Homo sapiens: one gene and its partner. The protein of the gene in region 1 interacts with the protein of each later gene in a biochemical or structural test. Each region holds a gene or a part of one and is shown on either strand. Other genes may lie near its edges. The genes, in order: POU2F1 and PKNOX1.

The links.
Region 2: the proteins of POU2F1 (region 1) and PKNOX1 form a complex in vitro, tested with the Homo sapiens proteins (one study listed by BioGRID).

Annotation. Positions count from the first base shown.
Region 1 is NC_000001.11:167,374,185-167,378,006, reverse strand, and holds part of POU2F1 (POU domain, class 2, transcription factor 1), read right to left. Parts: coding exon 3,711-3,822; intron 1,979-3,710; coding exon 1,852-1,978; intron 1-1,851. UniProt on the Homo sapiens protein: Transcription factor that binds to the octamer motif (5'-ATTTGCAT-3') and activates the promoters of the genes for some small nuclear RNAs (snRNA) and of genes such as those for histone H2B and immunoglobulins.
Region 2 is NC_000021.9:42,980,830-42,984,651, forward strand, and holds part of PKNOX1 (homeobox protein PKNOX1), read left to right. Parts: intron 1-3,822. UniProt on the Homo sapiens protein: Activates transcription in the presence of PBX1A and HOXA1.

The DNA of each region.
Region 1 (3,822 bases):
TAATTGCAGCACTATTCACAATAGCAAAGACATGGAATCAACCTAAATATCCATCAACACTAGACTGGATTAAAAAAAATGTGGTGCATATACACAACGGAATACTATACAGCCATAAAACTTTCAGTACATATGTACACAAAGAAGGGAACAACAGCCACCAGGGCCTACTTGAGGGTAGAGGGTGGGAGGAGGATGAGAATCGAAAAAACTACCTATCAGGTATTATGCCTATTACCTGGGTGATGAAATTATCTGTACATCAAATCCCTATGACATGTAGTTTATCTACATAACAAACCTGAGTGTAACCCTGAACCTAATAGTTTAAAAATAAGAAAAAAAGTAATTGGGAGGTTGGGGTTAGGGCTCAGGAAACTTTTCTAATTCCTCAAGTGATTTTTTAATTTTTTTATTTTTTAGACGGAGTCTCACTCTGTCACCCAGGCTGGAGTGCAGTGGTTCAATCTTGGCTCACTGCAAGCTCTGCCTTCCCAGTTCACACCATTCTCCTGCCTCAGCCTCCTGAGTAGCTGGGACTACAGGCGCCTGCCACCACGCCTGGCTATTTTTTTTGTATTTTTAGTAGAGATGGGGTTTCACTGTGTTAGCTAGGATGGTCTCGATCTCCTGACCTCGTGATCTGCCTGCCTCGGCCTCACAAAGTGCTGGGATTACAGGCGTCAGCCACCACGCCTGGCCATTAATGACTCTTAAATAAATCAAATCTTAGGAAGCACTAAGCTATAGGATTTAAGGTCAAACTCCTGGAAACTTAATCTAAGGTTCTTTAATGATCTGGTCTCTGCTAATCTTTCTGGGTTCAAATTTCACTATTACCTGCATATGCAAACTTATTCTGCAGTTGTAAGGCACTACTTATAGTTCTCAAACACAGCTTATTGATTTTTCTTCCATGTTTCTAAGGTTTGCAAATGCTGTTCATTTTCCAAGACTGACATTCTCTCTTTTGTAAGCCTATGAATGTATTTTCCCAAATTCACTGTGAAGACTTATCTGAGCACAAAGTTACAGGGGTCTCTTTGCTTGGTTCCCATAGCATTGTGTGCATATCAAATCTAACATAATTTAGGTCTGTTTCCCTGCCACTAAATTGTGAGCCCTCTGCAAGTAAATACTGAATTACTTATCTCTGAATCTTGAATATATGCTAGAATAATTATTTCATGACAAAAGATTTTGGAATGAATGATCAAGAAGAAAAAAGGCAAAAAAACCCACTCAGAAATAATAAAGAATCATTAGTGATGCACTAATGTTCCTTGGGTTGAAGCCTTGATACTCTGACATTCTTCACCCTGATTACATTAACTGACCTTACAGACGAGTGGTTGTTTGATATATTAATTATATAACATTTACCACTCAAATGACTCAAAGATGTTTTTTATAACTCACGAAATTTGTAGTTTCTATTATAGCAGTCTTCCCTCCTTAAATTAAAAAAACAATGGTTAGAAGCACATACTTTCAACACTCAGTCTATATTCTTTGAATACACTTCCATGAAAAACAATCAAAACACTAGCAGCAACTTATCCAATTTATGTTTGGCATGTTGAATAATTTCACTTAGACTTTTGGCCAAACTCTTGGTTCTTCCTTAGTGATTAAGCAGATGAATGGCAGTTCAGGGCAACCTTCAATAATGTGGTATTTATGACAAAAAACAAAACAAAACTTTTTTTAAACGAAAGTTTATAATCAAATAAAATTTAATAAAAACATTGGTCTAATAGTTTCAGGGCCAAAATGATAGTAGTTCATGCATGTGTAACATTCAGCGAACAGCCTTGGTATACCACTAATAAGCTCTAAGGAGGAGCTCACCCTGCTGGCCCTGGGGCGTCTGTGAGATGATAAACTGCGCTGGCTGCAAATTGGTGGTTGGATGCACCAACACAAACTGTTGCAGGTTGAGATTCTGCTGTTGAAGCTGTTGCAGTTGTTGAAGATCCTGAAAAATTGGAATTAAAACATGGATTGGAGATTCTGAAATAAAAGTTCGCTTAATTATAAGGCTTCCAGCTGATGACTTCTGTCACATCCAAATAAAGAAGAGTAAATACTTCGCATGCTTTCATATTCCAAACAGGGTATGCTCTGTGTGTGCTTGACAAAGCACGTGAAGCAACCTGGAGCCTCTGCAACTGACTATTTTTGTGGACTGACATATATTGTTATGATAAGCCTAATTTTCAATGTTTCTTTAAAATTCCCTCAGAACAAATATACTTCTGTTTTTTATCATGTAAAGACCAATATGGGTTTTAAAAATCAAGTGAGAAAACAGTTTTTAAATATTTGATTGATCTTTCTCTTAAATAAAAATTGATCGTGTTATGTCTGAATTTCCATCAATAAAGGGCCTATAATGACTTATGACATTTGACAACAGCTTATCTAACTCAACTGAAAAATCAGTATTCAATTTTTTTGCCCTTTTCCACATGTTCTAAAGTATTCAATTTTTTAAAACCAAAAATAGCTATCCATATAAAAATTTAATCCCTAACAACAATAGCACCTTACATTGGCCTACTGTTTTATAATTTTCAAAGTGTTTTCATGAACGTTATCTTATTTAGACTAATGTTAATATAGGGTCTCACAGCTTAGGCACTAAAAACATTTATTTGGTGATGAGAAAGTGGCCAAAATCAAAACATTATCTTGATAAAGATTGTATAAAGACTAGTCTGATATTTATTCTCTACTCTTACAGTTAATTAGTTCTTTTTAAATGGTTAGTCAAACTCTTGCTACAAGTTAAGTCCATTTCTGAGTCTTTTCTGAGACGGATAAAGACAGCTGTCTAACAATTAGACTCATAATAACTCTTCATATATTTTACTGATATATCTACTTATACCTTTTTCCTCTTCTTGAGATTAAAGATTTTATTTATTTTCCTCCTTGGTACTATTGTGTATGCTTCTTAATTTTTTTTTTTTTTAGTGGCGCGATCTCGGCTCACTGCAAGCTCCACCTCCTGGGTTCACGCTATTCTCCTGCCTCAACCTCCCGCGTAGCTGGGATTACAGGCACCTGCCACCACACCTGGCTAATTTTTTGTATTTTTAGTAGAGATGGGGTTTCACCGTGTTAGCCAGTATGGTCTCGAACTCCTGACCTAGTGATCCGCCCGCCTCGGCCTCCCAAAGTGCTGGGATTACAGGCGTGAGCCACCGCGCCTGGCGCTTCTTAAATAAATTTTTATTATCTCTAGATACTTTGCCCTAAAATGTGAAAATTGAAACCAAACAACATTCTAATGCAATAATGTTAATCACTCCATAGCAGAGATGACTCACTGTCTCACACATGGGTGGCAACATTCACCGCAGAGCACATGAAAAAAAATCCATGTCTGCTGTAATTAGCTAATTAAAATAAATACAGTAATCCCCTGCTTCAAAAATATGCCAGCTAATTATTCAAGAATTGTCACTTAATATAAAGTCAGTTATTCAAATAATCAGCTATATGTTTACAATATCAACTACAATAAGCAAACAAACATTATTTCTAATTCAGTGGTAAGGAAGGGTACCGCTTACCTCACTGATCTAGAGCTCCTCAGGCAGTTAAGGCCCCACACTAACAATCAAAAAGTTAATCTAACATTAAATAAAACCTGCCACTTTATTCCTCACTTGCTGCCCCAGCTATTGGAGTTCCTCACTCACCTGTGCGATCTGTATGGGCTGAGACAGGGGGATCTGCGTCATGGGCGTGGCAGCAGAGGCGGAGATGGTGGCTCCAGCAGCACTGTGCTGCTGGCTGGCGGAGTGCTGCTGC
Region 2 (3,822 bases), on another chromosome or scaffold:
ATTGTCTGCCTTTGTAATTGAAGGAGTGCTACATTTCAGCTAGAAGTTTTTGCCTTTTATCATTCATGTTCACAAATACCAAGTTGATTTACTCTCAGCCTATCCATTTGTAGGAATATATGGTGTCCTTTCTTTACTTCCTCAAATGATTATATTGATGACAAAAGAGACAAGGAAATAAAAACGGCACAGATAGGGGAACCCAAAGCCTAACAGTGTGTGTCCTTGGAGGTGAGGGTGAAGGAAGTGGCTGCAGGCCCTGGGAAGTACCATCTTGCATCCGTGTGCAGCACTGAGTGGATACCTCATGGTTCTGTCTTGTGTACACTGTTCAGGAGGACATGTAGAGTGGACATATCACATAGAAGAAGGTCAGTCTGGAAACTGTTAGGAGAAGCACTCAAGGGCTGAGAGGCATGGTCCTTGGTGGAAAGAGCCAGCAGGCCTGGTGCTGGCGGTGCCCTGCTCGTGACAGTGTGCAAAGTCTGGAGCCTGGCCTGTTCCCGCCCTTGGCAGATGGTAGCTCCTTGTTTTGGATTATTAGCCCCTGCCGGTTTAGTTACTGTTTCTGGAAGATTCACATAGAAGGCAGTGTGGTAATTCAGTCAACGTGTTGTCTGGCATGTGGTATAAAACTCCTGTTTAAAGCTCTGATTCTGAGGCCATGCCTCAGGGACTTGAGAAGGGGACAGAGCAGCTTATTTTATTTTATTATTTATTTTATTTAATTTTAATTTTATTTTATTTTGAGATAGGGTCTCACTTTTTCACCCAGGCTGGAGTGCAGTGGCACGATCTCGGCCCACTGCAGCCGGGAGCTTCTGGGCTCAAGTAATCTTCCCGCCACAGCCCCCAAAGTAGCTGGGATTACAGGCACGTGTCATCACACCCAGCTAATTGTACTGTTTGCCGTCTGCGATTGACGCTGGAATGATTGGCTGTTTTAGTCGGGTTCTCAGGGTGGCAGGGAGCAGGCTGACTTCAAGTTGGGTGGGTGGTGAGATAGGTGGTTCAGGATCATGCAGGGATAAAGAAAACAGGAGTCTATGGGATTCTTGGGACCACTGTATTGTTGCTGGGCCTCTGGGCAGATGGAACCATGGTTTGTGCTCTGGCAGGATCCAGTTCTGCACCAGGGCTCTTGGCCTTCCGCTTCAATTAGGTGGTTGCCCTCCACTGTCTGTTCCATCTGTACGCTCCCCTCACAGTGGGGGCTCACCCAGCCTTACCTGCCCTGTACTCTCCCTTTTCCAGCACCCACCTCAGAGAGAGTGCCTGTGCTCTTTCCCCTCACACCACCTACCAGGCGCTGACCTTCGGGCTGGGGGCTGGCCTTGGGTGTTGCAGGGCTACCTGGCCCAGGGAGTGGTGCTTGGGGAGGAATGAGCTTCTGACACCTGCACAAGGAAGGCCCCCTTTGAGCAGGGCCTGCCAGTGGGGTTGGGTCACTCAAAGGGGCTGTGGATTGGTAGGTACTATGATCACAGTTTCCAGAACATAATGCCTGAGTGAGCGCATGTGTTTTGTTACATGTTCTCTCAGACATTTTATGAAGGTTTGTACATTTTTTTGCATTAAAAATGTTAGGAATTTAACTTGACAAGAAAAAGGAGCATAAGGCCGGGTGCAGTGGTTCACGCCTGTAATCCCAGCACTTTGGGAGGCCAAGGTGGGTGGATCACCTGAGGTCGGGAATTCGAGTCCAGCCTGAACAACATGGAGAAACCCTGTCTCTACTAAAAATACAAAAAATTAGCCGGGTGTGGTGGTGCATGCCTGTAATCCCAGCTACTTGGGAGGCTGAGGCAGGAGAATCACTTGAACCCAGGAGGTGGAGGTTATGGTGAGCTGAGATCGCGCCATTGCACTCCAGCCTGGGCAACAAGAGCGAAACTCCATCTCAAAAAAAAAAAAAAAAGTTTAATAAACATTAAATTGCTAAACTTTACGTTCTTCTAAATTTAGTTACGTATTTGAGCATACTTTTTTTTCCCCCACGAAACAGGGGCTTGCTCTGTTGCCCAGGCTGGAGTGCAGTGGTGCAATCTTGGCTCCCTGCAACCTCTGCCTCCCGGGTTCAGGCAATTCTCCTGCCTCAGCCTACTGAGTAGCTGGGATTACAGGTGCCCACCACCACGCCTGGCTAATTTTTGTATTTTTAGTAGAGATGGAGTTTTACCATGTTGGCCAGGCTGGTCTCGAACTCCTGACCTCAGATGAGCTGCCCACTGTTGCCTTTCAAAGTTCCAGGATTACAGGCATGAACCACTGTGGCTGGCCTTTTTTTTCCAATTTTTTGTTATGGTAAAATACACGTAACAAAATTTACCATCTTAACCATTTTCAGTGTGCAGTTCAGTGGTGGTAAGTTCATTCATACTTTTGTACAGCCATCACCACCATCTGTCTCCAGAACCCTTCATCTTGTAAAACTGAAACTCTATACCCATTAAACACTGCCTCCCCATCTCCCCTCCCTGAAGCCCCTGGCAACCACCATTCTACTTCCTGTCTCTGAATTTCGCTACTATAGGGACTTCATACCAGTGGAATTAGGTAGTATTTGTCTTTTTGTGACCAGCTTAGCTCATTTACCATAATGTCCTTAAGGTTCATCTATGTTGTAGTGTGTGTCAGAATTTCCTTCCTTTTTAAGGCTGAATACTCCATTGTGTGGATATACTGAATTTTGTTTATCCATCCCTCAACAGACACTTGAGTTCCTTCTACCTTTTGACTATTTTGAATAATAAAACTGTGAACCTGAGTGTGTAAATACTTCTCCGAGATCCTACTTTCAATTTTTTTGGATATAGATCTAGAAGTGGGATTGCTGGATCATACTGGAATTCTGTTTTTAATTTTTTAGGGAACCTCCATCCGATTTTTCGCAGCAACTGTACTGTTTTATATTCCTTTTAATTTAATTTATTTTTTATTTTTCCAAGGACTCAATAAGGAGAGAGTATCAGTTTACATTCCTACCAACAGTACAGAGGTTCCAGTTTCTCCGTATCTTACCCAACACTTATTTTCTTATGTGTTGTTGCTTTTTTTAATAGCAGCCATCCTAATGGATTTGAGGTGGCATCTTACTGTCATTTTGATTTGTATTTCCCTAATAATTAGTGATGTGGAGCATCTTTTCACATGTTCATCGGCCATTTACATGTCTTTGGAGAAATATCTCTTCAAGTCCTTTGCCCCTTTTTGAATTGGGTTTCTTACATGCATACGTGTGTGCGTGTGTGTGCGTGTGTGTGTGTGTGTGTGTGTGTGTTTTAAAGAGACAGGGTCTCATGATGTTGTCCAGGCTGGTCTCCAACTCCTGGGCTCAAGTAATCCAGTAATACTCCTGCCTCAGCCTCCCAAGGAGCTGGGACTTAAAGACATGGGCCCCTGTGCCTGGCTATGTTCATACGTTTTTACATATTTTTTAAGCTATATTGTGTTATGCTTTTAGTTGGCATTTTAGTGATTTTTAAAACATTTATATAATCCACACATTTCTCGTTTTAAAAATTTAAGGTCTCATACACTTTTGTGAGTCCAGTTTTTTTCTTTTTCTTTTTTTTTGAGACAGAGTTTTGCTCTTGTTGCTCAGGCTGGAGTGCGATGGCATGATCTTGGCTCACCACAACCTCCACCTCCTGGGTTCAAGCAATTCTCCTGCCTCAGCCTCCCAAGTAGCTGGGATTACAGGCATGTGCCACCCCGCCTGGCTAATTTTGTATTTTCAGTAGAGACAGGGTCTCTCCATGTTGTTCAGGCTGGTCTCGAACTCCCGACCTTAGGTGATCTGTCTGCCTTGGCCTCCCAAAG